Linked DNA regions of Homo sapiens: all the other regions are linked to region 1. The links come from fine-mapping of genetic effects on gene expression. A gene starts in region 1. Each other region holds a variant in brackets. All regions are shown on one strand. Distances are from middle to middle. Region 1 holds the start of BARD1 (BRCA1 associated RING domain 1). Region 2 overlaps BARD1 (BRCA1 associated RING domain 1). Region 3 overlaps BARD1 (BRCA1 associated RING domain 1). Region 4 overlaps SNHG31 (small nucleolar RNA host gene 31).

Evidence for each region. PIP is the estimated chance that this variant, and not a neighbour inherited with it, causes the effect.
Region 2: its variant is the best candidate, but not a certain one, in a credible set for the expression of BARD1 in left ventricle (GTEx, PIP 0.53).
Region 3: its variant is the best candidate, but not a certain one, in a credible set for the expression of BARD1 in B cells (CEDAR, PIP 0.86).
Region 4: its variant is the best candidate, but not a certain one, in a credible set for the expression of BARD1 in T cells (TOPMed, PIP 0.62).

The regions. Positions count from the first base shown.
Region 1 is chr2:214,805,147-214,813,289 of GRCh38, reverse strand. It overlaps BARD1 (BRCA1 associated RING domain 1), which reads left to right and starts at 3,607. Exons shown (of 11, transcript NM_000465.4): 1 at 3,607-3,878. The coding sequence starts at 3,721. SNHG31 (small nucleolar RNA host gene 31) reads right to left here and starts at 3,061. Exons shown (of 4, transcript NR_110292.1): 1 at 2,858-3,061. RefSeq lists a silencer at 3,129-3,698 and enhancers at 4,249-4,328, 4,619-4,668.
Region 2 is chr2:214,769,506-214,777,505 of GRCh38, reverse strand. The region is part of intron 4 of BARD1 (BRCA1 associated RING domain 1); the gene reads left to right. Among named protein-coding and RNA genes, the nearest start is that of BARD1, 36 kb to the left of the region's middle. The variant T/C (reference allele first, on the strand shown) is at 4,911.
Region 3 is chr2:214,724,813-214,732,954 of GRCh38, reverse strand. BARD1 (BRCA1 associated RING domain 1) reads left to right here. Exons shown (of 11, transcript NM_000465.4): 10 at 2,447-2,544; 11 at 3,947-7,309. The coding sequence ends at 4,279. Among named protein-coding and RNA genes, the nearest start is that of BARD1, 81 kb to the left of the region's middle. The variant G/AAG (reference allele first, on the strand shown) is at 4,418.
Region 4 is chr2:214,851,683-214,859,828 of GRCh38, reverse strand. All of the region lies in intron 2 of SNHG31 (small nucleolar RNA host gene 31), which reads right to left. Among named protein-coding and RNA genes, the nearest start is that of SNORA70I, 8.8 kb to the right of the region's middle. The variant A/C (reference allele first, on the strand shown) is at 3,385.

The DNA.
Region 1 (8,143 bases):
TGATTATATATAATCATCCTCAATCAGTTACCATTTACTGAGTACTTATGGTGTATGTGATTTTACATTTAATCTTATTTAATAGTCCTCCAAATCTACCCGATAAATATTATCCCCATTTTGCAGACAAGGAAACTAATGCTCAGAGAGCTTAAGGCTTGGTTTAAATCACACAATTATTTAGTGAAAGTGGGATTATAAGTAGGACAATCTATCTCCTGAAATCCTCAATTTACCCCATTAACACCATAGTATCTCTCCAGGTTTTAACGTTTTAAGTTTTCGTTCTTTTTCTTTTTCTTTCTTTTCCTTTTGTGTTTTTTTTTTTTTTTTTTTTTTTGAGACAGTCTCGCTCCGTTGCCCAGGCTGGAGGGCAGCGACACCATCTTGCCTCACTGCAACCTTCACCTCCTGGCTTCCAGCTATTTTTCTGCCTCAGCCTCCTGAGGAACTGGGATTACAGGTGCATGCCACCACACCTGGCTAATTTTTATATTTTTAGTAGAGACGGGGTTTCACCATGTTAGCCAGGCTGGCCTTGAACTCCTGACCTCAAGTGATCCACCTGCCTTGGCCTCCCAAAGTGCTGGGATTACAAGTGTGAGCCACCGTGCCTGACCCATTTTAAGTTTTCTAGAACTTGATTTCTCCCACGCTCAACAAAGAGTAAGCACTGGCTTAACAGGACTAATAAGGACTAACTTCTTAGGTGCCTCTGAGTTAAAAAAAAAAATTGGTTCGTTTGTGTGCTATCATAGTTTCAGTTAAAACATTTAATAAAGCCTTATTTAGTTGTGCTTATTCTAACTAACCAAGTGTGTGATTTTGGCCAAGTCATTTAAACTCCTTGAGTTTTCATTATTTAGTGGAGCTACAAGGCACAGTGGCTCACACCTGTAATCCCAGCATTTTGGGAGGCTGAGGCAGAAGAATTGCTTGAGGTCAGGAGTTCTAGAGCAGCCTGGCCAACATAGAGAGACCCTGTCTCTACAAATAATTAAAAAAAAAATTATCCAGGCATGGTGGGGTGCACCTGCACAGGTCCCAGCTACTCGGGAGGCTGAGGTGGGAGGGTCACTTGAGCCCAGGAGTTCAAAGCTGCAGTGAGCTGAGATCGTACCACTGTACTCCATCCTGGGCAACAGAGTGAGACCTTGTCCCAAAAAACCCCTCAAAAGACCAAAAATATAATTTACTGGGGCCATTAATAATCAAAAAGATCTGGGTTAATATTCTGCCACTGTTGTTATCTGTGCCTCCATCCTGGACAAGTATGCTTTTCTTTTTACAAATCTTACTTTTCTCTAAAGATGGGGGTCTTGCTATGTTGCCTAGGCTGGCCTTGAACCCCGGGGCTGAAGTGATTCTCCTGCCTCAGCCTCCCAAGTAGCTAGGACTACAGGCATGTGCTGAGCCCCTTGGGCAAGTAAATTAAGATCTCTGAGCCACACCTGCCTCCTCTTATTAAAGAGCACTGTCTTAGCTGTTATAACAAAATACTATAATCTAGATGGCTTAAGCAACAGAAATTTGTCATATTTCTGGAGTCTAGAAGTCTGAGATTAGCGTGCCAGTATGACTGGGTTTTGGGGAGGGCCCTCTTCTTTTGCGTTCTTGCTGTGTCCTCATGTGGTGGAGAGAGAGAGAACTCTCTCTTCTTACAAGGTCATTAACCCCATCATGGGGGCTCTGCCCTCATAACCCCATCTAAATCTAACTACCACCCAAAGGTCCCCTCCAAATACTATCACGTTGGGGTTACAACTTTTAATATATGAATTTGGGGGTGACACTACAGATACTAATGCCCATTTCATAGGGTCCCTATAAGGCTTAAGGCAGGTATTAACATAGGAAAGCACTTAAAGCTGGGTCTGGCTTGGGTAGGTAGTTCAATGATTCAACAAACACTGAGCACCTACCTGGAGCCAAGCACTGCATGTGCCACATGAAGCGATATTGGGAAATGAGTCACATGCAGCCAATCTCTGGCCTTTTGGAGGTTTTGAACTAGAAGGGGACACGCACATAATCGTATGTGTGTGTATCTACATACACAGGTGATATGATGCACCTGAGAGAATCCAGTCTAGGAACTAGGAAAACCTTTAAGGAGTGATACTTCAGCTGTATTCTGAAGGATGAGGAATGGAGAGGAGGCCAATTCCAGGTTCCAAAGTGAATCTTTGCGCAAAAGCCATGAGGCAGCAAGGTGCAGGGGCTTTTAATGACCTAAGGGAACGCACTGTGGGGTTGGGACCATGATGGCCAGAGGAGGTTTTGACAAGAGGCTAGTCAAAGAGCAGAGAAAAACTTTAAGGAGTTTTAAGAAAGGGAAGTGCCACGATGAGTTTTGTGTTTGGAAATGTTTTAGGCGGCCACACCGCAGTCTCGGGACTGGCTGGGACCTGGATAGACACTTGGATATCAGCTAGAAAGCTACGACAGGAAACCAGGCGAGGACGAGGCAACTGGGGATGTTGTGGAGCAGAGACGGAGAGAAAATGGGTGCATTCGAGACAAGTTAGGGGGAAAAAATGCAAGGACTTGGAAATGAACTTGGGGCGCGGCAGGAAGGCATGACGGGTTGCTCTGTAGGTCTTATCTGTAAATTACGGCGATCAGTGAAAGATCTGGAGGAGGAAGGTGGACACACTCTCTAACAAAAAAAACCCTTTTTGAAATTTTATACCAATATTTTAAAAGTAAACCAGATCTTTTCAGACATGCCTTTGAGCTGATATTTGTTAACTAGTTAGAATTAGAAACTTTCCTTATTTTTACTCAGTTACAATATACGCCACAGCTGAGGTGAGAGGAAAGAAAAGGTTGCTTTCTTAGGAACAAAGAGTGGTACCTTCAGTATCGTGGGCAAAGCTTTTCCAAGTCCAACAGCAGTCAAAACAGCGCTTTTTATAAATAACACTCAGCTAAAAGTTTCTGGGTTTGTGATTGTTCCAACGGTTAAGCTCGGATGAGGGTCCCTGGAGTCGTAGCTCCCGGGAAACGTCGACTGGCTTTCCACCTGGACTTCATCCGTCCAGGCAGCCCAGAGGGGCTTCAGGCCCCGCCCGCTCTCCTGCCAACTACAGCCTCGCGACTGCGCTCAGCCTTCAGGCCCCGCCCCTTCGGTCAAGCGGCGTGCTCTCACTGCACGGCGCCTGGGCCCCGCGCGCCGGGACCTCGGTTTCAGCCGTCCTGTCCTGCCCCGAGGCCCCTAGGCCCCGCCCCTGGGCCCCGCGCGCCAGGACTTCGGTTTCGACCGTCCTGTCCCGCCCCGAGGCTCCTAGGCCCCGCCCCCTCTGTCCCCGGCGTGTTCTCGCGGCTCCGCCCCTAGGACCCGCGCGCCGGGACTTTGGCAAGTTTCAGCCGTCCGGCCCCGCCCCCTCGGTCCCACGGCTCTCGCGGCCCCTCCCCTAAGTCCCACACGCCGGGACTTTGGCAAGTTTCAGCCTCCAGCCCCACCCCTAGGTCCCGCCCACTCGGCCAGCGGCTGGCTCTCGCGGCCCCGCCCCTGTGCCCTGCGAGTCCCTATTTTGGGAGCATTGCGGCCGCCGTGCCCCGCCCCTCCCCGCGCGCCCCGCCCCTCTGGCGGCCCGCCGTCCCAGACGCGGGAAGAGCTTGGCCGGTTTCGAGTCGCTGGCCTGCAGCTTCCCTGTGGTTTCCCGAGGCTTCCTTGCTTCCCGCTCTGCGAGGAGCCTTTCATCCGAAGGCGGGACGATGCCGGATAATCGGCAGCCGAGGAACCGGCAGCCGAGGATCCGCTCCGGGAACGAGCCTCGTTCCGCGCCCGCCATGGAACCGGATGGTCGCGGTGCCTGGGCCCACAGTCGCGCCGCGCTCGACCGCCTGGAGAAGCTGCTGCGCTGCTCGCGTTGGTAAAGACGGAGCTTCTTGGGGGTGGCTGCGAGGGCACGGGTCGCACAGTTTCTGGGGGCGGCAGAATCTTTTCAAATCTTCCGTTTCCTCCTTCCGTTCCCGCGCTGCAGTCGGGTCGGCGTGCGGTTAGCACCTGCCGGGGGATATAGTATTAACAACTTCTGCTTCTCATTCACTTTATTTTTGGGCGACTTACCGGCCTCCCCTTGCCCTGAATCCAACTGAAACGGTAGTTTTTGAACTTCAGCGGGCTGAAGAACCGTCTGGAGGTGTGGCTAAAAAAATGTTCATCCCGGTCGCGCCTCCAGAGTTTGAATCGGGCTGGGGTGGGGCTGAGGCTTCTGCATTTTTTACCCGGCCCTGGATTACCCCGCTGCTTTCCGGGAGCTGTGGCGAATTGGGCTGGCGGGCCGCCCCGGAGACCCTCTAAATTAGAAGCAGCTGCCACTCTAAGTTAAACTGGCCTTTTTGACATTTTCTCCGTGCCAGCTTTTTCGAGTGAGATGGGATGGAGCATCGGATATCTACCATAGTTGTAGATTGAAGATGGCACGGAATTTCTCATTTTCTTAGTTTGCTCAAAAGACTGTATGTCTGGTGTCCCCGCTCTTAGTGATGCTGTTTATTGTTTTCCTTCATGCTGTCACATTATGGGAGTCCTCTCAGGGTTTTCATTCCGTCCAAAGACATTTTCATGAGTGTTACTTCTTGCTTTTTTTCGTGTAGCTCTTTCTAGTATACAAACCAAGAAGGTTTGTAAAACCCAAGAAAGGTTTGTCTCATTTTCATTTCTTCTGAAAAGCATTTTTATTGAGCACTTGCTGTGTGTACAGCTAAGTATTTCTGTATGAAGATCACTGGCAGTTTTTTTGTTATTTGTAGCTGTCAAAAGTTTATATCCTTTTTGGACTTTTTTCCCCTTTGATTTCTAACTTGCAGAACTTAAGTTACCTAGTTGCATAAAGTATAAGTAACACAACTTTTTCTTTTCTTTCCTTTTTTGAGACGGAGTCTCGCTCTGTCGCCCAGGCTGGAGTGCAGTGGCACGATCTTGTCTCACTGCAAGCTCCGCCTCCCGGGTTCACGCCATTCTCCTGCTTCAGCCTCCCAAGTAGCTGGGACTGCAGGCGCCCGCCATCATGCCCGGCTAATTTTTTGTATTTTTAGTACAGATGGGGTTTCACCGTGTTAGCCAGGATGGTCTCCGTCTCCTGACCTCGTGATCCGCCCGCCTCTGCCTCCCAAAGTGCTGGGATTACAGGCGTGAGCCACGGTGCCCGGCCAAACTTTTTCTTTAAAAATGAAAAGGACTTAACTGTCAGAGTTTTGCACTTATATTTTCTTTGACGAAAACTTTTAATATCTGTGACAAAATGACATTGCACTTCTTAGAAAAGTGACACTCAGATAAGTGAGTACATGAAGACATTTGAGTTGTGTGTTTGTTTTCCTGTAGCACATGGGTCATCTGAGAATAGGAAATTTAAAACTGGCACTGCTAGTTGCAATAACAGAAGCATTATAGTTCACACCTTGATAGTCCAACGAAAGTTAGACATTCCCTTGGCACATACCTATGTGGAAGCATCGGGCTTCACTTAGACTGTGGTCAGAATGCCTGAGTTCAGGTTCTAGCTTTGACACTATTGAGTAGGCCAAGTTATTCATCTCTCATTTTCCGGATATGAGTAATACTAATGATTAGCTTATTTTCTTGTGAGGATTCATTAATAATCATAAATTTATTGAGCACCCATAAAGTGCCAGACCCTATTCTGGGTATTGGGGATTTGTTAGTGAACAAAGCAGACAATAAATTCCATCTCTTAGGGAGCTTTTATGGAAGAAACAAAATGAAATTTTACATGTATGTAAAGTATTGAGTTTGGTGGTTGTGATAGAATAAATGATAAATAATGTGTGTCTTAATCTAAAAGAATGTGGTGTTTGCTTGCTACATGATTTGGGAGAGACAAAATAGATAATATATATGAATATATGTTGTCCTGAAAAATAACAAAGCCGGTTTCACTTTTTATCCCCTACCAAATATTTTTCCAGTTTCTAACTGAAGTGAGTAGACAGTAAGAGGCAACGGAGTGTAAACAGACATCAGTAACCAGGCCCAGACTTTTAGCATGGCTCACCCATTTGACTACAGAATGCTATTGAATGCTATTGATTTTTTTTTTTTTAATCCGAACCTCTATAGATGAACTGAATCTTAACTCTTAGACTGCATGTTTTCATGTAGGGGTCTGCAAATTTTTTCGGTAAAGGGCCAGGTAATTAATATTTTAGGCCTTTCTGCCCGCAAATAGTTTTTGTTCTTATTTATTTTTACATCTCTTAAAAATGTAAAAACCATTCTTTCCTTAAGGGCTGTACAGAAACAGACTGCTGGCTTGGTTTGGCCCACAGGCAATAGTTGCTAAACTGTCGATAAAGTCTTGATAAACTTAATGTCTCAAGTTTAAAAATCCTTTTTGGTATACAATTTTATATCACATGGGGTGCCTTTTTTTTTTTTTTTTCCCTAGGCAAAGTTTCACTCTGTCACCCAAGCTGGAGTGCAGTGGCATGATTTCAGCTCACTGCAACCTCCTTCCCCCGGGTTCAAGCAATTCTCTTGCCTCAGCCTCCTGAGTAGCTGGAACTACAGGTGCATGCCACCATGCCCGGCTAATTTTTGTATTTTTACTAGAGACGGGGTTTCATCATGTTGGCCAGGCTGGTCTCCAACTCCTGACCTCAAGTGATCCGCCCACTTCAGCCTCCCAAAGTGCTGGGATTACAGGCGTGAGCCACCATGCCTGGTCTTTACATGGGCTTTAATGTTTAGAAATGATTTTGCTTTCCTCTGTAGGTGTCTCTGCAACTTTGGCACTATCTATAGTGAAAAAAGCATGGCCAGCTGCACCTTACTCAAGGAGGAAAAGCATTGTTCCTACCTCTGCCTTTGCCCTGGTAGCCTCCTGACATTGCCGGCAAGGAGCAACTCAGAATGGTCTGCTTCTTCCATTTGCTACCCTCCATTCAAAGCAGTGTCATATTATTTGAAATTGTGTCAGTATGTCCTTTTACAGAGTTTCAGAGTTCTACCCAGTGGGCTAGTGATTACCCCGATTACCCTCACATTCAGCTTGCAGCTGACATCTGCCTTGTGTTGCACATGGATCTGTTTTGCAGCAAGCATTACTTGCTGGTGAGGGTGGATTGGTACATAACCGGGCATCCTTTCTTGACCTTTAACATGAATCTGGCTTCAAGGTGAAGCCGATGAAAGTGTTCAAGAGGCCAGATGTGACATTTATATTAGGACCAAGCCTCACAACCAGAAAGAAGCTATTTAAGGATTTGGAAAAATGAGACAGGAAGACCATATTATTTGAGAGGCTGGCAGAAAGCACAGTAATAATGTGTTCCTAAAGGAAGCAGGAAATGGTAATAGGAGCTGCAGTGTAGAAGCCCCAGGTGTCATATAACACTGTTTTGTGAATTAATAGGTACCTCTTGGCATATTTTTGAGGGTGAGAGTGGGATTAGACATCTATGACAATTGTAACGTGGGCCTTTTTAATCAACTTTTTATGAAAAGTTAGAAAGTAATCTTTTAACCTTTATGATAGGTATTTTTTTTTTTCTGAGTTCTTGTTTAGGAGATGATCAAGCTTAATTTTGTATTCTCTCATACTTTGAGGCAGCATAGTGTAGATGTTAAATGTGTGGAATCTGGAGTTAGATTCCCTGGGTTCAAATCCTGGCTCCATTATTTAGGTTATTTTATCTTTTTATGCTTCCTTTTCTTCATCTGCACAAAATGAGTGGATATTCATAAGATGCCTTGAGCTGTGTCTGTTATGTACTAAATACTATATGAATATTTGTGAAATAAAGGATAGGTTCTCTGACTCCGGGTTCAGCTTTTGCCTTTCTTCATGAGTTTTGAATGTTCAGAGGCATTCTCACAGAGCAGTGATCCCCAAATGGAATGATTTCTCCCTGGCACTGGTTATTCATTAGAATAACGAGAAATCACTGAGACACTGTGTAAGGGGTGATAAGGTGATGCATTTTCTACTTCTGCCTTTAAGGAGTGTATGCTTAATTATAAGGGATAAAATAAATACAAGTTCAGGGTAAATTGTCGTGCAGGTCGACATAGTGCTGAGAAGAGTACTTGGGTAGGGCCAGTGGAAGGAAGCTTCATGGGCTTTTAAATTGAAATATGAATAGATTTTCTTTTTTCTGAGACGGAGTCTCC
Region 2 (8,000 bases), 36 kb after region 1:
TAAACTTGCAGTTTCTATAGTTTGAGCACATGTTTGCGCTGAGCATCCTTGGTGTATGCACCGAGGGCAGAGAACCCAGCAGGAGTTTGTTCTCCTGCACTAGTTACCTTCCCCCACTGCAGGTAGGGCTTTACTGATTGATTTCTGAGCTTGGAAACATTATTAATAAACATCGTATAATACCTTGCCCCAAACTACCTCTGGGCATCATCATTGGCCATAACCTTTCCATAGCTACCACCCTACTGGCAGCTACTTCTCTTTTCTTGCCCCTACCACTTGCATTAATTTTCTATTGGTGCCAAAACAAACTTCCACAAAGTTAGTGATTCAAAGCAATGCAAATTAATTTTCTTACAGTTCTGTACACCTGAAGTCTAGTATGGGTCTCATCACACTAAAATCATGTTGTCAGCTGTTTTCAGGAGGTTCCAGGAAAGACCCATTTCATTTTTGCTTGGATGGTTGGCAGGGACTTCATAATTCTTGTGGTAAGACTGAGATCCAGATTTCTTGCTGGTTTTCAGCTGAGGGTTGTTTCCAGGTTCTAGAGACTCTCACATTCCTTTAGTTCGTGGTCCTCTTCTTCATCTCATCCAGCAGCAGCAGATTGAGTCCTTCTCACATCTTATCTTTCTGACATAGCCAGAAAGACCCTCTGCTTTTAAGAATTCATACGATTAAATTGGGCTACTTGAGAAATGCGGAATAATCTCCCCATCTCAAGGTGTGTCCACTTAATTACACTGCAGTGTCCCTTTCACCACGTAAGGTAACATAGTCACAGGTTCTGGGGATTATTCGTGTGTGGACATTTTTGGAGGTCGTAATTTTTTGACCACACCACTGAAGTAGCTTCCTAATTTCCCTTTGTATTTCCTGCAGTCAGTTCTCTATGTAACAGCCAGAGTAATCTGACCGAAATCAAAATTATCATTTCTCTGCTCTCCTATCAGTAAGTCTTTTTTATACCCCTCTTCCTATTTGAATATCTTCATAACTCATGTTCCTATTTGAATGTCTGCATCAGCTATGTTAAACTGCTATTGAGAACACTGTGTCATGAATGGGAGAGTTTATGAGAAAGCTTTGTGCGTAAGTAGAAACTAAGATACTCATTGTTTATTCTTCTGATTTATTACCACAATTACTTTTGCACCAACCCAATAGAAAACAAAATACTAAGGATATAGAGAAAATTTTTTATTTTCTATTATGTCAGCTTTGCTTGAGAATTTGTGCCATCCTGACCTTCCCCTTTTCTTCCCCCACACCCTTCTACCAAGTTCTCTAGCACAAATTCTTAAAATGGCAATGACTACTCATAATTTATGCCACAGCAATGACTTACTGTGGAATAGAAGAATGGCTTGAAGCTGGCATGCCATGATTTATTAGTGATGTAGACATAATAGATAATGTTTTGAATGCAACTTACAAGGCATGGTATGCTTAGAACATAACAAAGGTGATGAAGATCCCCTGGAGAGAGAGAAGATCCCTTGTGAGGAGTCTCATTTAGAGTTTAACTTTGTAGTTTATTATACTTGAAGACAGTCATGTTATATTGTGTGTGAAATTATATATCCTTCATAGTAGCTTCATGAGAAGGTAGCAAAGGAAACAAAAGCAGCCTTGGCATATGTGATATTTTCAAGAGTTTAATTTCTAAAACACCTCCTGGAGTCAGTATCTATTTTTCTCCTCTGTCACTCACCACATATGTATAAGTCTGCTTTTGTAATACCAGTAACTTATTGTGCCATTGACCAGGTTATCAGAATTATCTGTTAAATTACAGGCATACCTCATTTAATTGCACTTCACTTTTTTATGCTTCGCAGAGAGTTTTGTTTTTGTGTTTTTTGGCAATCCTGCATTGAGCAAGTCTGTCAGTGCTGTTTTTCCAACAGCCTATGCTCAGTGTGTCTCTGTGTCACATTTTGGTAATTCTCACAATATTTCAGATATTTTCACTATTGTTGTATCTGTTACGGTGATTTGTGATCAGTGATCTTTGATGTAACTATTGTAATTGCTTTGGGGCACCACAAACCCTGGCCATGTAACATGGCAAACTTAATTGATAAATGTCTTTTCTGACTATTCTGCTTACTGATAATTCTCCCATCTCTCTCCCTTTGAATCCCTGTTTCCTGGGACACAAGAATATTGAATTTAGGTAAACTAACAACCCTACAATGTCCTCTGAGTTTTCAAGTGGAAGGAAGAGTCACTCATCTCTTACTTTATATAAGAAGCTAGAAATGATGAGTGAGGAAGGCATGTTGAAAGTTGAGATAGGCCAAAAGCTAGGTCTCTTGCCAAACAGCCAATTTGTGAATGCAAAGAAAAAATTCTTTAAGTAATTTAAAAGAGCTACCCTGTTGAATACACAAATGAGATGAGAAGAAAGCATAACCGCCTTACTGCCGATATGAGGAGAGTTGGAATGGTCTGGATAGATGATCAAACCAACCACATTTCCTTAAGCAAAACCCTACTCCAGAGCAAGATCCTAAATCTCTTCAATTCTGTGAAGACTGAGAGAGGTGAGGAAGCTGCAGAAGAAAAGTTGGAAGCTAGCAGAGGTTGGTTCATGAAGTTGAAGGAAAAAAGCTGTCTCCATAATATAACAATGCAAGTTGAAACAGCAGGTGCTGATGGAGAAACTGCAGCAGGTTATCCAGAAGATCTAGCCAAGATAATTATGAGAGTGGCACACTAAACAACAGATTTCAGTGAAGTTGAAACAGCCTTTTGTTGGAAGAATATGCCATCTGTGTCTTTCATAGCTAGAAAGGAGAAGTCAATGCCTGGCTTCAAAGGACAGGCTTTCTTGTTAGGGGCTAATGCAGCTGGTGACTTGAAGTGGAAGCCAATGCTCATTTACCATTTAGAACAACAAAGCCTGGGTGGGAGCACATCTTGACAGCATGGTTTGCTAAATATTTTAAGCCTGCTGTTGAGACCTACTGTTCAGGAAAGATATTCAAAATATTACTAATTGACAGTGCCACCTAGTCACCCAAGTGTTCTGATGAAGATAAGGACATTAATGCTGTTTTCATGTCTCCCAACAAAACATCAATTCTGTAGCCCATGGATCAAGGAGTAACTTTACTTTCAAGTCTTGTTACTTAAGCATTTTGTAAGGCTATAGCTGTTGTAGATGGGTATTCCACAGATGATTCTGGAAATGACTCACCATTCTAGATGCCATTAATATCATTGATGATTCATGGGAGGATGTCCAAATGTTAACATTAACAGTAGTTTGGAAAAGAGTTGATTACAGTTTTCATGGATGACTTTGAGAGGTTCAGAACTTAAGTGGAGAAAGTAACTATAGATGTAGTAGAAATAGCAAGATAACTAGAATTAGAAGTGGAGCCTGAAGACGTAACTGAATTGCTGCAGCCTCATGATCAAACTTCAATGGATGAGGCGTTGTTTGTTATAGATGAGAAAGAAAGTGGTTTCTGCAGATGGAATCTACTTCTGGTGAAGATGTTGTGAACACTGTTGAAATGACAACAAAGGATTTAGAAAATTATATCATCTTAGTTGATAAAACAGCAGCAGGGTTTGAGAGGATTGGCTCCAATCTTGGGAGAAGTTCTACGCAGATAAAATGCTACCAAACAGCGTCACATGCTACAGATAAATCTTTCATGAAATGTCAGTGGATGTGGCATACTTCATTGTCCTGATTTAAGAAACTGTCACAACCACCCAAACCTTCAGCAACTACCTGCTTGCTCAGTCAGCAGCCAGCAGCATCAAGGCAAGACCATCCACCAGCAAAACAATTGTCACCATTTTTTAGCAATAAAGTTATTTTCAATTAAGGTCTGTTCATTTTTTTTAAAAAACATAATGCTATTGCACACTTAGTAGACTACAGTATAGTGCACATATAACTTTTATATGTGCTGGGAAACCAGAAGATTCGTGTGACTTGTTTTATTGCAATATTTGCTTTATCGCAGTGACCTGGAACTGAACTGACAGTATCTCCGAGATATGCCTGTATTTTATTCAGTAAATTCTAAGAAGCTACAGAAATATTTAACATATTTTAGAGCTTCATTCCAGTTGGTTCATTTTTGTTTGTTTGTTTTAATGGCATCTAATTGCCAAGAAGGGAAGTCTTTGGTTCCTGGTCGGTTCATTTACATGGAAAGGCTTAACCATGCTAGGCAAGTCATTTGTCTTATACTTAATTGTAACGTTCTGTATTGTTTTTATGAATATGTTTATTAATGGTATTTTAGAAGAGCTAACATTTATAATAAGGAAAAGTTTTGTTTTTATGTGTGTGTTTTTGGAAAGTTAATTTATATTGTTGGAATATGTGTGGATCTGCAGTATGTACAAATGTGTGAAGGATCTTTCCTTTGATTGAAAGATTAGGAATAAAAGATTCAGTGGGACACACACACACTCTTATTTTCAGCCTTCAGTGTATTACTTGAAAATACCAAATTCATTTAAAATTTTTAATAAGCCTTGGCAAATACTTTCCTTAGATAAATTATGTTTGCTGTGGTTTAAGAAAAGTTCAATTATTCTTTCAAGTTGTGAGGAGCCCAAAAGTGAGTACTTGAAAGTAATTTAAAGAAGCCAGAATCAAAACTTAATTTATTTCCTGGCTACTTCATATCAGTTCAAGCTATTCCAGTTACTGTAGACTCTATCTAATTATCATAATTTTATTTATGCGCATGACATTACATTTACATGAAGTAGAAAGATGAAAATATGACAAAACTTTCAAGTACTAGAGAGGAGAAAGCAGATTGGTTATAAAAAGCAAGCCGTTTGCTAATCAGCTATACAGTTCAGGGGTGGGGAGAATGTTAACAGAAGACACTTTGATAATATGAAGAGGTGACATGAAAGAAAAA[T/C]AGCAACTGTCTAACAACCTTAAAAGAGAGTCTACTTGTATTCTTTAAATTGTCACTCCGTTTCTGTTTGACTATTCCCTTGAGACTCTTCCATTTCACAATTGTGTTTATATTATTTTTTAAGCTTCTTTAATATTTTTTTTTTGCATTACCATGTAGAATTAGAATGGGGAAATCTTTGAGAAGGTTTTTGTGTGTGAGTACTTTCATGTTAAAGATAGGGAATGTGTGTGGTTCTGGCAGTTTATCTGCTCACTTGTTACAGGATTGTTTTGGAAAAAAAAATTTGTATCTTGGCAGATATTCCTGCATTCATTTGTAACCGTTATGAATATAAAGCAAAAGTTGCAGGGGCTCACACCTGTAATCCCAATAATTTTGGAAGCTAAGGCAGGAGATTGCTTGAGTCCATTAGTTTGGGCAACATAGTGAGACCCCCATCTCTACAAAACAATAAAAAAAATTAGCTGGGCATGGTGATGTATGCCTAGCAGTAGCATACTGCTGAGGCTGAGGCAGGAGAATTGCTTGGGCCCAGGAGCTTGAAGTTACAGTGAGCTATGATCATGCCATTGCACTCCAGTTGCTAAATACATGATAACTTGCTCTAGAAGTAGAATTTGCACTGTTAAGAAATCTGGGAAAATGTTGCTTTTTTTTTTTTTTTTTTTCCTGAAACTGGGGTAATTAATTTGAAACCTACAATCCTTTTAGACCCATTGAGCATTTAAGGTCATTTTGTTAATTTAGGAATATAAAAATGTATGTTGCATGAGAATTTACTTTTTTAGAAAACTGAAGATTTGAGAAACAGCCCAGAGCACAGAAACAGAGACAATTAGATATAAAAAGCATTTTTTTTTTTTCTGAGGTAGAGTCTCGCTCTGTCGCCCAGGCTGGAGTGCAGTGGTGTGATCTCAACTCACTGCAACCTCCGCCTCCTGGGTTCAAGCAGTTCTCCTGTCTCAGCCTCCTGAGTAGCTAGGATTACAGGCGTGTACCACCATGCCTGGCTAATTTTTGTGTTTTTAGGAGAGACGGGATTTCACCATGTTGGCTAGGCTGATCTCAAACTCCTGACCTCATGATTTGCCTGCCTCAGCCTCCCAAAGTGCTGGGATTACAGGTGTGAGCCACCACGTCTGGCCAGCAAAATTTTTTAAAAAGAAAAAAAAATCAAATATTATATTTAGGAGAATTAGTGATTTCTACATTATCAAACCAACAGAGGAAAAAAATTTCAGAAAAAAGTATTGGGAGAGGGGTTGGGTGGGGAGAGATTTATTCACTAAAGAAGCACTCACGAAACTCATTGAACACAATGTTATGCATGTAACTTCTGTCTATAGCTTTTTATTTGGTCTTTTTTGAGAGTATGCTCTGCTAGATATTTTTGCTTTATCGTCATGGACTTAGGTACTGTACCCTGCCCTGTTATCCTAAAAGAACTGATTAGTTATATTTGCAGTGAGTGGTGATAATAATGTAATTTCAAGAAAATTTTTACCTTCATCCCGCTGCATAAATGCCTCCTTCTTCCTAAAGCCTGACATTGTTTTACAAAGGGACAGTATCCTTTATATTACAGCTAGAGATTTTTAAAAAGGCTTTAAGAGTTAACGGATACTTAAAACGTAATATGTAATTAAATATAAATGATAGATGTCAGATCTTTCCACATTACATGAAGGGCCAAATTTAAGAGACCCTGGTATTAGATAGCTGGAGGATTATTATCTCTCACTTCTAGGAAAATAAAAAAGAAGAGTGGGAGGGCAGACTACCTGAGACCAGTTCCCCAGAACTCCTTTGCCACAGTCTACCTTCGCTGGAGGCTGGCAGCAGAGGGAAGCTATTTTTTTTGTCTTACTTCAAGACAGCTTTAAAGTGACCTTAAAAGTCTACTCATTTATAGTAGGATTTAGTTGGATCATGACACACAAGACACAGAAAGTTCAAAACTGGAAGGGGTCTTCAATTTTAATGCTATTTAATAATTGACGGTGTCTTAATATGAAAGTCGAATTAATATTGTCTGCCTTCAGAGTATTTTCCTTGCCTTGTGCCTCATTTTAATTCACTTATTCCCCGGATCTTGCTCATCTGATTTAAAAAGAGGTTGTGATTTCTAAAGTAAAGTTATTGTATTTCTTACTATTCCTCATCTGCCTTCTCCATTGCATCAGTGTGCTACTGTTGCTACTGTTATAACATTGTTGCATAGCTCTCCAGAGTACTGGAATAGAGAAATAGAGAAATTGAAAACCACTTGTTAGAAAAGACTTGTAAGGCTACATTACAGAAGCTCTATTTCGTATAGTTGAATTAGTTGATAATGGGTGGTGATTTTAGTCTTGAACTGGGCGGGGAGCAGGGGGATAAAAAATTTAATGCTAATTCTGTGGGCTGATTTGAATAGGTTTGTACTGATCTCTTTTTTTGCCATTTTAAACAGAGCAACTGTTGCTTCCTAGAAAATGTTGAACAAATAAGGTGAATATAAACTAAATGTATTAGGATGGAGTAACTGCCAATAAAATGGCAGTTTTTGGCTGTTTTTTAACTTTGGTTTCACTGAGTAGTCTTCTGGGCTAAACAGTTTTGGTTGTTTTAAACAATACTCAGAAGCCATTTACAAATGCTCAAAAATTGTTTTTTTCACAAGTGAAATTATGGCTTTTAAAACTTCATTGTGAGCACATGATCTTTGGCCAGTGTCCTTTATTTGGTACCTGAAATGAATTTTGAATATGGCTTTCTAATAGATTTTGTAGTCTATATTCAAGCATGACTGTACTTCTTGATATCTCAGAATAATTTATACGCAGACAATTTCTTTTTTGTTTTGTTTTTTTGAGACGGAGTCTTGCTCTGTGGCCCAGGCTGGAGTGCAGTGACATGATCTTGGCTCACTGCAACCTCTGCCTCCTGGGCTCAAGTGATTCTCCTGCCTCAGCCTCCCAAGTAGCTGGGATTACAGGCTGGCACCACCATGCCCGACTAGTTTTGTATTTTTAGTAGAGACGGGGTTTCACCATGTTGACCAGGCTGGTCTCAAACTCCTGACCTCAGGTGATCCACCCACCTTGG
Region 3 (8,142 bases), 80 kb after region 1:
CAAACACATTTTTTTTCCCTCAGAAAGTACCAGTTTTTTCAGTTCTGTCGCTTACTCCAAATTCTGCAGATGTGGCTCCTGGAAACAGTTGAAGTTTTGTTATTGTGTCAGTGTGGGGTAATAAAGAAGAAAGTTTAAAACCGATTATGCCATAAAGTCTGAGTTAGTCTAAAGTGGACCATTACTCACTCTTGGAAAACATTGCATTTCTTTTTCTTCTCCAGTATAAGTTTTTGCTCTCAAGATAATCATTATAGGTCAGCAAGGTGTGGTGGTTCACGCCTGTAATCCCAGCACTTTGGGAGGCTGAGGTGTGCAGATCACGAGGTCAGGAGATCGAGACCATCCTGGCTAACGCGATGAAAGCCTGTCTCTACTAAAAGTACAAAAAATTAGCCAGACATGGTGGCGGGCGCCTGTAGTCCCAGCTACTTGGGAGGCTGAGGCAGGAGAAAGGTGTGAACCCAGGAGGCGGAGCTTGCAGTGAGCCGAGATTGCGCCACTGCGCCCCAACCTGGGTGACAGTGCAAGACTCTGTCTCAGAAAAAAAAAAAAAAGAAAAAAAAATCATCATAGGTCAAAAGACATTTTACTCATACACAACTGAATCTTAATTTATATTAGATGCAATCGCAGGACAGTTCTGGGTAGCAGATTAACTGTTGGTTCTTAGCCACCCTTTAGTCAAGAAAGGAGCCCTTTTGCAGGCATATGCAGTTTACATGCCGAGTAGTGGTTCTGCTCCTGTGTTGGAATCAATTTACTGTTGAAGTAAGTAGGGATCAGCTGGACAAAACTTTATCACTAGCATTTTTCAAGAGGTTTCCAAAACACTGTAGTATATCCAACATATATGTCTAATCCTCAATATAAAGTATATGTTTATGCAGCCATAGATTTTTTTCTGATCATTTTAAGCCATTAGATATCAAGTGATAACAGGATGTAACAGTTTGATATTCAAAACTATGTGTAACTCTGAACTCTTACAGGTGCTATATAATTACTTATTTTTATTGATGTGGATACAATCTGTCAATGCTGTGTCCATAGTGAATTTTTAAAAACTTTTGTTCCTTTATGTTAACAACACTAGACAGTGAAGGGGATACCTGAGTTATTGTTCCAACTTTCCCGATACCCTCTGCTATTAAACTCCTGTTCTATGGGAAAGTGTATGAAATTCTGAAGAACGCATAGGTGAATAATATATGGTTCCTACCCTCAGTGATAAAATGAAGTATTGAGCAAAACAACCTCAAAGACAAATAGGAAATTGTATGGAGGGTTTGTTTTTATGATGAAGATAATTCATTGTAGTATCTAGTTTTTAGAATGCTTCTTGCATTTTATCCACAGAAGCCCGGTGAAAAACATTGTTTTCATTTTTTATTTCCATAGGCAAGGAAGCTTCCAGAACAAGTAATTGGGATAGCCAAGTCCTTCAACTGCAAATCTCAAATTTAGTTTAGTTATATGCCATCAGAACAGAAGCATGATAAATATATATACATGCCATCAGTTCCCTCGCTTGGTGGTAAACAGGCATTATCCAAGATGTTGTCTCTAGCTGAAGCTGACCATGTCCTTCATGATTGGTCCTGGGAATCCCAAGGGTTCCTTTCATTTCTAGAGCCTAGCGAGACAATTGGTACTGGCTGCCAGCCAGTGGCCCTACTTAGGGATTCCCCACCCAGGTGCCAAGCAGTGGAATGACTCTAAACAGTGCCAGGCTGAGCTGTCTCTATTGCTTTTGCTTTTTAACCTGAAGCTGTGAACAGACTTACTCAAGCCATCAAAAGAATGCTTTTTTTTTTCCTGCAAAGCCCAATCAAATCATCTCTAGACTAGCAACCTCAGTTGTGTACCTGTCACATGCCAAACCTATCCCAAGCTCTGCTTGTTTATTTTAGGAAGCGCTGTTGAACCCCTGTTGTGTGGCTAGCTGAGCTTGGTGCTGTAGACTAAAGCACATTCCTTCATGTCAAATCACTTACAGTTTAACAGACGATTAGACATATAACTGTCAAAATGAGCAGTATAGATGGTAAGTGCTCAGTTTAGGTTATTGTGTCATGGACTTTTTATTCACCTTAATTTTGGGTAATTGCTATGAGTGGAAATGTAGACTTTTATTTTTGTCTTTGAAATAGTATCCTGGCTTAGGTTTTTCAGAAAGGAGATTAAAATTACAGTTAGTGTTCAGTACTAACTTATGGCTTAATCCTCCAAAGAAAGAGTTTTTTAAAATATTTTCTTTATATGGGAAAACCAGTTGTATTACATTTTGTTTTGGCATAAGTAAGATTTCTGTTTGCATTTTAGAATAATACTTAAAAACTGCCATGAAGAAGAAAAACCACTTAGGTAAATTGCTTGATTTTAATGAGAGAGATATAGTGCTCACTTGATACTTAGTTTGCTTTAATTCTTGTGTTTTTGTCAGGGGTAAAAGCATGTCTACGAAGAAAAGTATGTGAACAGGAAGAAAAGTATGAAATTCCTGAAGGTCCACGCAGAAGCAGGCTCAACAGAGAACAGCTGGTATTTTTCTTTTAATACAACTTTCATTGTTCTTATTATGACATACTATTATTATCACCATCAGGAAGAACTTCTGCCCTTTCAACAGCTACAGGTGACTGATTAAAATTTTAATTGTGCTTATTTCAAGCACTTGATTCTGAAAGATGATCACGATGAGCAGTAAAATCCAGAAGGTAATAATTTCATACTGTTAATGGATTTTTGGCATCTTGAACATTGCCATAAACCTTTCAGAATCTGAGGTAAATCTCAGATACAGGAAGTAGCTTGAAAGAAGACTTACAGCTGCTGCTTGGATTTAGTTACCATATGTCTCTATGGCCACATATTGTAGCTTTAATGGATAATATCGCATTATCCTGTTGATATTATATAAGTATATTAGAAGTCACAAAGAAAATTTCCATAGAAGGGAATTATGAAACTTTTTTTATTTCCAACGAGCATACGGAAGTATGTTTCATAGCTAATTGGATCCCTAGCCTCAGCACAAAAATCTTTTGTGCCCCGTGAATACATTTCTGGAACCCTGGAGGGCACACCCCCATGGTGGCTGCCCTGGAGACCTTAGGTTGGTAATATGTAAGGACCTGAATGTGGATGGGCAGAATTGGATAAAAGTCCACGGAAAAGATGTTACTCTTGTAATTTAATAATGTTTAGCCTGGTGTCTCTGAAGCCTATTTCAAATAAGCTAGGAGTTGTGGAGGCTTTAAGTCCCACCAAATAAGCATAAACATCCTGATGAAAAAAGTTTGATGAATAGTTTGTTTTTTTCTTTATACCAAGCATATCTAAAATTTTAGAAGAGTGAAAAGGAACCGAGATGGTGACTGAATCTTAGGGAAAAAATTGTAAATAGGAAGCCCCTATTTGCCTAAGTATTTTTCTTGATCCAGTTAGTATGCTTGAAATATAACTTGTCCCAGCACCTCATTAAGTAGCTTCTTAGCTGCTCATAATTGTTACAGATGGAGCATTCCTAATCCAACATCTAAAATGCTCCAAAATCCAAAACTTTTTGAGCTTTGACATGATGCCACAAGTGGAAAATTCCACACCTGACCTCATGTGACAGGTCACGGTCAGAACACAGTCAAAATTTTGTTTCATGCACAAAATTACTGAAGATATTGTATAAAATTACTTCAGGCTATGTGCATAAGGTGTACAAGAAACAAACGAATTTTGTGTTTAGGCTTGAGCCTCATCCTTAAGATACCTCATGTATATGCAAATTTTCCAAAACCCAAAAAATTTATGAATCTGAAATGCTTCTCCTCCAAATGTTTCAGGTAAGGGATATTCAACTTGTATTTTTATTTTCCTCATTCATATACAGTGTTTTTGAATACAGTATTTTGATCTGCCTTTAACAAATGTTTTCTCATTATTTCAGTTGCCAAAGCTGTTTGATGGATGCTACTTCTATTTGTGGGGAACCTTCAAACACCATCCAAAGGACAACCTTATTAAGCTCGTCACTGCAGGTGGGGGCCAGATCCTCAGTAGAAAGCCCAAGCCAGACAGTGACGTGACTCAGACCATCAATACAGTCGCATACCATGCGAGACCCGATTCTGATCAGCGCTTCTGCACACAGTATATCATCTATGAAGATTTGTGTAATTATCACCCAGAGAGGGTTCGGCAGGGCAAAGTCTGGAAGGCTCCTTCGAGCTGGTTTATAGACTGTGTGATGTCCTTTGAGTTGCTTCCTCTTGACAGCTGAATATTATACCAGATGAACATTTCAAATTGAATTTGCACGGTTTGTGAGAGCCCAGTCATTGTACTGTTTTTAATGTTCACATTTTTACAAATAGGTAGAGTCATTCATATTTGTCTTTGAATCAAAAAAAAAAAAAAA[G/AAG]TCTAATGCCAGATTAGGAATTCATGTTATGTTTACCATTTAGAAGCTGGGATTGCTTTTAAAGGTTTTTCTTTTTAAAATTGGCATGTTTTTGATTTATCATGTCTTTCTATTCAGATTATTGGGTATCAAAGATTAATGAGGACACCAGAATCTTGGTTAAATAGACAAGTGGTATCATTACTGTTTGAGTCTTTTAATATTCTCCATACCTGCCACCAGTGAAAAAACTTGCCTTTTTTTTTTTTTTTTTTTTAGTAAACAGAATATTATCAAACAATTTATTTTGGCTTTATTGAAAAAAGAGTATTTGGTCTAAATGTGCCACCATAGGTGTTAAATTCTCCTATCTGCAATTGTCTTTATCCTATATTGTGTTCATTTCTTTTCTTAATAATTTACTTTGTTGTGTGTTTCTACACTTTCATCCCTGTTTTTTATCTTGTATATCATCAGGAAATTGTGATTTAATCATTAACATTGGTTTTTTTGTGTGTGTGGTAAAAATCAACACTAGGCTCATGGTACATATTTTTATTCTGTACATTTGCTTGTAACTATCAATTTGTAACTCTGTTTATCTACTACATGTGTATATATACTTAGAGCATTTTCTCTAACACATTTTAATGTTAGTATTTTTTAAAAGGTCTGACCAGTCTAGCAAATTGTCAGTCCAACGTCATTACTTTAAATTAAGAAGCAGTCTTCTTCTGGTAAACCTTGTTGGTATTTGTAAAATAATTTTGAAGGTCTTAATTTCTTCCTTTGTAAAAGGAAAAGGTTTTTTTTAAAGTTTTTAGGTTGGCATGGAGGCAGAAGTTGGTGATTACTTGATTTACAACAGATTTTTTCCAGATCATACAAAAGGCCATACAGTAAGTATAGAAGTAGGTATGGGGAGGGCTTACTAATATCAAATAGGCAAGGCCTTAGTGAGTGGGCAGGATACCACCTGAGAGTGGCCAGATGTGGGGAGGTTACTCTGCTCTGGGTGCTCTCATTCATGAATCGACAAGGATACATTAGATTATTTTGAAACATTTTTTTAAGAAGCAGAATTCTTTAATAATTCCTTCCTAGACATTGAATATACTTATAAAATTAAAGACTTGGGGAAGGAGACACTGAGAGACTTGCCAGTTTGGTTCCTCATGAACAAAAGAGGACAGTTTGATAACTACCAGAATAGAATATCCCTAGTTTTAAAATAGTGAGAATCTCTGAAGTTCATCAACATCTTAAGATGCACTTACTTGAAAGTTTGAGATTCTGTTTATCATTTGAAAACACATTTTGCTTTAATTCTTTCTTTGACATGTTGTTTTTTCATATCAAGAAATATATGAACAAAATAATAACCTTTTGACCCTGACCTTGCTGGGTGAATTAGCTCTGAAACACTCTCTACAACCAGTAATGCATTTGTCCCACATTTCATTCTGATAGAAAATGAACACCATAGCACCAAACAAAAATCCGAGGCGTTAGATAATGTCTGGATTAAATAATTTAAGACTCTCTAGGATTTTGGTTGTCATTTTTTATTTATAACAGACTTTAAGTCACTTTCTGTTGCCTCATAGGTCACATTTTAGACAGGTTTGTGTCTGTTCCTTGCATCTGAATTCCTGATTGTAAAGACACCTATGAGGTCTCTTAGTTTTTGTCATTCATTTTCTTGGTTTATCACCCCTCCCTTCTTTTTGTTGTTTTTCCCTGACTGTTAAGCAGTTTCATCTTTGCTTTTGTTAAATATTTGACAGCAGTTAGTTTGTGTTAAGCTCTTGAAACTTGTGATTGTACTTTCTGTGTAGATATACATGTAATTATTTTTTATTTTTCAATCATAGATTCAAGCTTCCTTCTTTTTTACCACAAATCATTAAAGTTATTTGTGTTTCCATATACCTGTGTCTTGTATAAAATTGGCTTATTCTGTGCTGTTGAATGAGGCTCAACATGACTTGGTGAGGAAGTCTATTAACTAACAAAAGCTTATCTTTTTTAACATAATGCTTTTTAATTAATTTTGAATAAAAATATTTCTAAAGTGTACTAGATACTTTATTACCTTAGATTATTCCGAATACAGTATAACTTTGATAGTTTGGAATAGTCATTAAGAAACAATTACACACTGATTGCTTTGTGTCTCTAAAAGTGAGAGGCTGGTAGCTTTTCCACATTCTCATGGCTATTTTCTAGTTCTACTTGAATTTATAACTGTTTCCCTTTTTCCTTGACAGCTGCCACTTTGTAGCTATTTTTCTGTCTCTGCTAATACTTTACCATATCTATCTCAATTGTTTTTTCTTTTGACTTGCTGAAAAATAGAAACCAGATGGGAAGTATATTAGCATTATGATTGAAATAAGGGTAAATGAGCAATGTGTGAAGGTTTTCACTGACTTCACCTAAAAGATAGTTTAGCTACTTGAATTTTAGTAAATAGAATTTTTCCTTTATTTCATCGGTCCCCCCACCTTTTTTTTTTTTTGCACCTGCCTTGTAAATTTAATAGTTAAGTGACCTCTGCCTAGAGGATGATATTTGGGGAGGTTTGATGTTTCCTGTGGGAATAAGACGATTCACAGGTGAGAGTGGGGCCACATTAGCTGTTATTGTTTCCATGGGTCAGTGTGGAAAATGCATTAATCATATTCTAAACGTTCATGGGCCTCATTACAGTCACAATTGTCTATTCTGTTTCCTACCCTGAACACATTAAAATGGTAGGAACTAATGCTTGTCTTATTTAATTACTAAAAGCCACCATTTTCTTTGATAGATTGAGCTACAGATTGTAAACTTCATGTATTTCTTTATAAGTCAACCCTTTTCAAAGATACGCACATCAAACTGAATGAATAAATAAATATTGAGAAGTTGTCTTCGTTTAAGAGCTGTAATTTTTTTTTTTTTAGTCAACTAATAGTCTTATGCCTGGCTAATTAAGCTGCAGACATTCTTATGAATTAGGGATTGTTGATTATTTGTGTAGCTTTCTAAGGCACAAGGTGCACTTTCTGATACCTGTAAGTTTCTATTAGAATGGTGATGTGAGAGAAGTGGGAAAAGCATGTTCTTTGACTAGGCTTAAAGGGTTAATGACTAATACTCCAGCCCCAGGGAGGATCCTGAATCGGCTTTGAAGTTAGACATGGGTTTGTTAACAATCTAACCTGTATCATCAGTGATAAAGGGGGGGAATACAGTTCATTTCACCTGAGTATAAAGATGTGTGAAAGTGCTTAGCACACTGTAGGCATTCACAACTCGCCTTCCAGGACCCCTGTGAGCAAGCTCATGAAAAAGTGACTGTTGGTAGCACAGCTTGTGTCAGTCCTGAGTATCCTGGCTCTTGTATCCCATGCACAAGACTGCTGGGTGTCCTCCTGTATTCACTTTACTGGTTTTAGCCTGAACAACAACCAGAGCCAGGCCCTAGTTTCTTATTTCTGACTTCTCACCATCCCATCTGCACTGGTAAAGTTTGCCCATCTATGTAGCCACTCCTGCTCATTTAACTAAAATGTTTAGCTTTCATCCCCTCAGTGTATTTACTGTGGATACCAAGATTGCTTAAGCCTCCACACAGAAGTGGGGCACCTTGGACAGCACTGGCAAAGCTTCTACAGTTACCATAATATCATAAACCCTTCCGCCACCTCCACTTGAGGCCTAAAACAAGGATGTTTATCTTTTCTGCCTTAGTTCATAGT
Region 4 (8,146 bases), 47 kb before region 1:
GTGCACAGAGTGGGTACCAGAGATGGAGGAGGAAGCCAATGTCCTGGTAACTGAGGATCTCTGGGGGAAATGCACACTCAAAGCTCTGATGCCAAACCATCCCCATGTGCCTAGCCTGGCTTCAGGTACTGCCCTCCCCTAAAATCACCAGAGGCAAGCTTCTGTAAATGGAACCTACAGTCACCAAAAAGGAAAATAAGAATTTTCAAATATTAGCATAGAGGAAAAAACAGAATTATAAAACACTTAAGGAAAAAAACCATGAACTAGAGGTGCAAGATTCAACGAAAAACTCACATTCAAAGGTACAGTTCATAGAGAAAACCAGACTAAGTGACTATGCAAAGAATGAGTAGAGATCATAGAAATGAAAAATATGATCCCTTAAATAAAACATTCATTAGAGAGGCAGTCTAGCAAAGGAGGATGGAAACAAATAAAGATTGACTTACTGAGGGGGCCAATTGACCTATCATTCTTTCAACCATCCCTGCACTTGCTACTTACTAAATGTTCATTACACATAAATAGGTTTTCAATTACTCTGTTTTTGTTTTAACAAATATCAACAGAATACTCTAAAACATACATATTAATATATTAATATTGGTTGTCTCTGGGTAGTGAAATTATGCAATTTTTCTTTTTGGCTAAGTTGCATTTTCAAATTTGTGATTTGAGATCTATATGATTCTCATGAAGTTCAGGAGAATGAAGCAGCAGAAAGTACAATAGAAACGTTAAGAATGGAGAATACATTCAGATGTTCCCACAGCATTCCAGAAAGAGAAGGAAGAGGAAATAAATGGGAGAAAATTACATTTAAAAGGAGAGGGGAGAAGGAAGAAAAAGAGAAAAGCAAGGAGAAAAAAGGTTAGGAAACGGAGGAGATAGGGTGGAGGAAAAGGTAACTTTCCACAGGTAAAAAGTCCACCATGTGTCTGAGTACTGATGTTAAAAAAAACCCCACATGGCCAGGTGCAGTGGCTCATGCCTGTAATCCCAACACTTTGGGAGGCCGAGGTGGGTGGACTTGAGGTCAGGTGTTCGAGACCAGCCTGGCCAACATGCTGAGACCCCGTCTCTACTAAAAATACAAAAATTAGCTGGGCATGGTGGTGCATGCCTGCAATCCCAGCTACTTGGGTGGTTGAGGCATGAGAACTGCTTGAACCCGGGAGGTGGAGGTTGCAGTGAGCCAATATCTCGCCACTGCACTCCAGCCTGGGCAACAGAGCAAGACTCTGTCTACCAAAAAAACAAAAACAAACAAACAAAACACATACGGACACATTCTAAAAATATGTCAAAGCCCTAAGTATAAAAGAAAGCATTCAATGATTTTCAGAAAGAAAACAAACATGTATCTATGAAGGAATGAAAATCAAGTTAGTGTCAGACTCATGGTCCCCACAATTTTACAATCCCCATCATGCAGAATTCACACTGTGCTGCCGAGAGGCCAATCCAACAAGACACCAAAGTAGACGGTCCCTCCTGCAGTTGCAGAATATGGCACTCCAGCCAGACTTGTCATTGCTAACAATAAAAGCTAGAGAATAGAGCAATGACTTCAGAGTTCTGAAAGTTATTTCAAATCTAGAATTCTATACTCACTGGATTTAGTGTGAGAGCAAAATAAAGACATTTTTTTTTCAGACATACAAGGCTCAAAAAAGTTACTATCTACAAGTTCTTTCTGAAAGAATTCCTAAAGGGAAATTCCAGTAAGAGAAAATAAATACATAATTCCATTTCACAGAGGTAAGAAAAGACGCCTGAATGGTTACTGTACAATATTTTAAAAAGCTAATTTGACCATGGGAAATGATGAGAAAGGAATGTAGGGTGTAACTAACAGCAAACTATTGTTGTCTTGTTCAAGGAGAGTCTTATACACTGGCATGCTTTTAGGGGGTTGCATCTCTTCTCCCTTGATTCTTCCCTTGGGGTGGGCTGTCCACATGCACAGTGGTCTGCCAGCACTTGAGAGGGGCCCAATGCGCAGTGTGTTTACTGAAGTTGTGCACATGCTCACTTGAGGCATTTTTCCCGTTCAGTGTTCCCAGAGAAAGGTCACCTACCAGTTAAACTCTGCCATTTTGCCTCTTGGTGCACATGCTTGAGCCCATTTGCTCAGCTCCTGAGATCTTATCAGGAAGCTGCTGATCACCAGATTCAGGTGTTTCTATCTATTGGGAGACTGCCTTTCCCTGGCACTGGCTGCAACCAATTATTAATACTATTTTAGAGAGACAGTGTAACAACCACCTGACCATCACCTGATGGGCACCAGACATTTCTGGTAGGAGGGGTCCTCTCCTGCCCTGCACATATCTGACTATCTACTATTAAAAATATGGCTGCTCCAGCTTTAAGGGATCCTGGGAAAAGAGTATTTAGCTTTCACCACCCTATATGGAAGAAGAGTAGGGAGAGGGCTTGGGGAAATGTTGGTGGATCATTTGACCAGAGTGTCTACCTGGAAGTTAAATGTGCTGATCCACTGTAGATATTGATAGTGAAAAGGATCAAGATATGCCACTCCAAAATATGCCTCTTTGGCCTAAGGATTATTTGGAGTTAGAGGTAATTAAGCATAAACAAAATACAGGAAGGGTTCTGTGCTCTCCTCTTATCTGTCTAAAAGTAAGGCATATATTACCCTTTATGAAAATGGCATATTAGTCGGGTGTGGTGGCTGGCGCCTATAGTCCCAGCTACTCGGGAGGCTGAGGCAGGAGAATGGCATGAACCTGGGAGACGGAGCTTGCAGTGAGCCCAGATTGCGCCACTGCACACTCCAGCCTGGGCGACAGAGCGAGACTGCTTCTCAAAAAAAAAGAAAAAAGAATGAGATGGTCCCTGAAATATCTCCTCAAGAGGGTAGAGTAAGTTAACTACAGGCCTTTTGTTTTGCTGAATGTCATATACAAAGCTGAATTGCTCAGAATTTTGAGAACCTGGATGACAGGAAAGGGAAAAGGGGAGAAATTAGAAGTGTAGGTTTCTATGTACTCTCACCATTCATCAAGTAAGTTTCCTAGTGCTCTGAACAAGTGAACTCCAAATATGCCGGCAGCATGGCCCTATCTATTAATATAAAAATATATGAGCACTCTCCCTTTGTTGTATGTGTGTTTTCAGGTCCGAAATATATGAAATGCTGCACTGGTTATTACGTGAGGACACCAGTGTCAAAAGGTGTTTTGTTACTAATAAAGCCTAATTTCTTCATTTTTTAAGACATAAAAGAACTATAAACATATTAAATTTTCTTATTCACTTCATTCTTCCACCAAACTTGGAAACAACGGTATATTTCACTTGGAAAAACACACTGTTTGCATATCCTGCCTGACAGAAAAACTCTGGCATAGCACA[A/C]CGTGCCCACGCTGCTCTGAGGAGGTGTTCTGATCCCAGTGATACAAGGCATTAAGATGGGAAGGCTGCCTGAAAACAAGATTGTTTGGGGATTTCTTTATACTGTGATTGTTCACCCTGGTGATTGTGAATGGAATTCAAATCATTTTAAGCAAGCAGAAGAGTTGCTGAATCACCACCTTGACTGCAGGCTTCCAAACTTGTGGCAACAACCAGGAAGGGGGAGAGGTTAAAAATTCAGTTGAAATGTGTACTTAGAAAAAATTAAAAACTGAATTAAAAATTATCTAATCATAATGAATTATAAATATAAAAACTATTACTTGATGTTCTTGTACCTTGTAACAGATCACAGGCAAATTTATAAAGATCTTTTAACAGTACTAATATTTTTTAAGAGAGGTTCCCCCTTTTAGATTTTGCTTATGTGATGTTATCATTTGAGTTTATCATTTCTGTAGCATGAAACAAACATAACCCTTTTTGGAGCACATTTAAATGATGTCAAAAATTTAATAAAATTAATGGCCCTGTTCTTTGCAATTGCTGCAATACATTTTCTTTCTTACACTAAAATTATGAGTAAAGATGCTGTTACTTTTTAAGTGATTTCACATAATAAAAATATGAAGTCTAGATTAAATTGATCTTTCTACTACTATTCATTCTGCTATATTCCCTCTATGAAATTGATGTTTCATCTTCAATTGTACAATTTCAACTAAAATTGGAAGACCAAAGCAACTTAGGCTATAAAATAATAAAATTACCTTACTCTGGTACAGTTTCATATTTTTCAAAGCACTTTCCCCTTATTGAATTCTGTCTCACAACAAATCTAGTTGTTATTATTTTTCTTTTGATATATGAGGAAAATGAGACACAAAATGTTAAGTGGCTTGTTTTTAGTTACACCATTTAATTAGTTATAAAGCTAAAGCTGGAACAGAATGTTTCTGTTTCTGAGTTCTTTTCTTCTGTGACTATTCCATGAGACCTGATGCTTTCATGGAAATGAGTCAGAAGTGTACCCTCTCCAGATAAACTCTAAACTCCTCACAATGAAGAGTTCAAGGAGACTGTCAGTTCTTAGAACACCCTTCCAAATTCCACAATTTGGAAACTATAATGATCATGGAAACTATAATGAGATTGGTAATCTAATATTTTCTGTTCTTCAGCAGCTGAAATAGGACTATACAGCAATTATCTATTAAGCCAAAGCTATATGTTACTGAAAATACAAGCATATTCAAGGCACCTAGGACAGGGACTGAAGGAATGGTTTTTTGATTAAAATAAGAATTTCAAGGCCTGGCATTCAGAATTGTTAAAGATCTCAAGGCCTGAAATGCCTCCTACTACTTCAAACAGGTATCTGGGGATACAGATATCCAGGAATACAGGAATTTCCCAGGACTGGTATGCCAATTCTGACTATGCAATTAGAAGAAGGAAACAAGACCTCAGCCCATGTACCAGAACTAGAGAGACTGTCAATATGGATTCAAACCCAGATGCTATGAGACAAAGTCAGAAAGATAATCCCAATAGCTGTGGAGAGTTGCTATGGTTTTAATGTGTTCCCCAAAAAGCTTGAAGTGGAAACTCAATCCCTAACGCAACAGTTCTGGGAGGTGGGACCTAATGGCAGGTGTTTAGGTCTTGAAAGCTCCACCTGTATGAATGGATTAATGCTGATTATTAAACGGCTTGAAGCTGTAAGTTTGATCTCTTGCTCTCTCTCACCTTCTCTTGGCCCTTCCACCATGGGATGACATAGCAAGAAGGCCCTCACCAGATACTAGCCCCTTGATTTTAGCCTTCCCAGCCTTCAGAACCCAAAACCAATTTCTGTTTATTATAAATGACCAAGTCTCAGGTATTCTTTCATAGCAGCACAAAATGGACTAAGACAGTAGTTGCAGAAGTATAGTGAAATTTTTCTGAGGAAGCTCAGATTCCCTAAGCAGCAGAAGCAATGTGGGAAAGAAGTCTGCCAAAATTTCACTATTAATGAAGGTAATTTAGAAGGACAAAGAGAAAGGGAGAGTTCTGGCTGCTTTTCCATTATAAAACCAAAAAAGTAGTTTGCATAGAGAATTACTAGTCCAGACTTGGGGAACAAGGGTTGCATGTTATGATTCATTCTCCTAGCTCCAGTCCAATTCCCCACAAGATTTCTGAAAGAGAGGAAAAGCAAGCCCCAGAAGGATGCACAGAAAAAGCTTCAGACCTGGTTTGCTTTACTCACTAATGTTCAAGTAGTGTAGTCCTGGCTATTCACTGACAGGATAGGTAAACACTAAGAACCAGTTTCCTGGTATCTTCACTTGTGTTGCCATAACAAATTATCATAGACTGGGTAGCTTAAACAATGAACATTTATTCCCCACAGTTTTGAAGGCTGAAAAGTCCAAGGTCGAGGTGCTGACAGATCCGGTCCTAGTGAGGGTTTGCTTCCTGGTTTGCAAATGGCCATCTTCCTGCTGTGTCCTCACATGTTGGAGAGCAGAGAATAAGCTCTCATATCTCTTCTCTTAAAAGCACTAGTCCCATTCATGACTAATTACCTCCCAAAGGCTCCATGTCCTAATATCATCAAATAAGAGGTTAGGATATCAAATTATGAATTTTAGGGAGACACAAATACCTGGTTTTCCAAGAAAAATAATCCCAGCACTTTGGGAGGCGAAGACGGGCAGATCACGACGTCAGGAGATCGAGACCATCCTGGCTAACACGGTGAAACCCCGTCTCTACTAAAAAATACAAAAAATTAGCTGGGCGTAGTGGTGGGCACCTATAGTCCCAGCTACTTGGGAGGCTAAGGCAGGAGAATGGTGTGAACCCGGGAGGCGGAGCTTGCAGTGAGCTAGATTGCACCACTGCACTCCAGCCTGGGCAACAGAGTGAGATTCCATCTCGAAAAAAAAAAAAAGAGAAATGAAGGAGTACTGGGGACTCTGCGGAAAGTTAACATCAGGATTTGTTTCTACTGTGGGAAGGATAGGCATCTCAAAGTAGAGCATATCTGTGAGGCAAACTCTACCCTAGTCTTCCAGAAATTGAGGTAGGAGCTGGTATAAGAAGACCATGACCCTCAGAGACAACAGAAATGAGGATTAAGGAGGGGATCATGGAGACAAGAGTCCTGGGTGTGGGGTAATTGAAGATCCAGCCTAGGCTTTGCACCTACTCTCCCAGACAACTTTGTGTCCCAGGGGATACCTGTGATGAACCAATAAAAACTTATTATGCATTCCATATTCTCCAGACTGGGAAGGATCATGGTGGGGAAGATGCCCAACAAAAAGAGGTGAAAATATTTCCTGTATCTACATATTTGCCCATCTTAGGAGGAGTGGCTGAGCCCTGAGTTGAATAAGACTTGAGAACCACACATAAGCCTTGTGTTTTTCTTCCATTCATTCGACCTAAAGGGAGAGAGTTAGTATAATTGATTTGTCAGGATAGCCAATATTTTCTCAAGGGAACATATAGTAACTAGAGAACATGTTTTTCAGTAGCTGTTAGGAGAATCCCATCACAAGAAAACACACAGATTTGTTAGAGAGATGTCAGTAGTAAAGTCCAAAGAAGCTTCCTGTTGGCCTCCAAGTTTTATTGGTAAAAAGCTAATTTGAATAATATGAAGGGAGGGGAAGAGCTTAGGAGCTGAGAGAGGCAAATTTCCATAAAGAAGAGCCCAATCTAACAGGCTTTGGGGAAAAGACAAACTTCTAAGACAGTATTATTGAATTGTTGGCTAAGTGACATATAAAGTAAAACTCCTCCAGCTCTGTTATAAAATCAATGTTAAATCTTACATTTCCAATTAATGCCTTCATGGCAGTTGTTCTGTTTTTTTTTTGTTTGTGGGAGGAACTCAGAACAAGTTGTCTGCCAGGTAATTGAGTTACCCCATGTGATGGTTAACTTTATGTGTCAACTTGACTTCTCTAAGGGGTGTCCAGATAGCTGTTAAAACATTTTTCTGGGTGTGTCTGTAAGGGTGTTTCTGGAAGAGATGAGCATTTGAATCAGTCAACTGAGTAAAGAAAATTGCCCTTACCAATGCCAGCAGGCATCATCCAATCCCTTGACAGACCAACTAGAACAAATTAGTGGAGGAAGAAAGAATTCACTCTGTGCTTGAGCTGGAGTTATCTGTTTCCTCCTGCCCTTAGACATCAGCATTCCTTCTTTTCCAGCCTTTCAAATTTAAACTGAGACTAACACCATTGGGTCCCTGGTTCTCAGACTCCAAGGCTTAGACTGGAACTACACCACCAGCTTTCCTGGGCCTCCAGCTTGCAGATGGCAGGTTATAGGACATCTCAGATTCCATAAACACATGAGCCAATTTTTCACAATAAATACATATATATATATATATATATATATATATATATATATATATATATCTCCTATTAGTTCTGTTTCTCTAAAGAGGCAAGGCTAATATACCCCATGAGAAATATAATGCTTCAGAAATACAGCCATCAATCCCTGTTTCATCATTTGTTTATAGGGTGCCTTATAGCTTTAAAATATTCTCATAAAATTATTATATTCTGAGTTTTTCACAATAAAATAATGTAGATGAGTAAATAGAGTGGTATCATCCTTTCTTTTTTGCAGATGAGGAAATGGGCTTTGCAGAGAATAAGTAACTTGGCCAAGTGATAAGTAACTAGAACTCTGATTCTTGTCAGTAAGTTTTTTGGTTTCAAGGGACCAAAACCACTCATACTTGGTA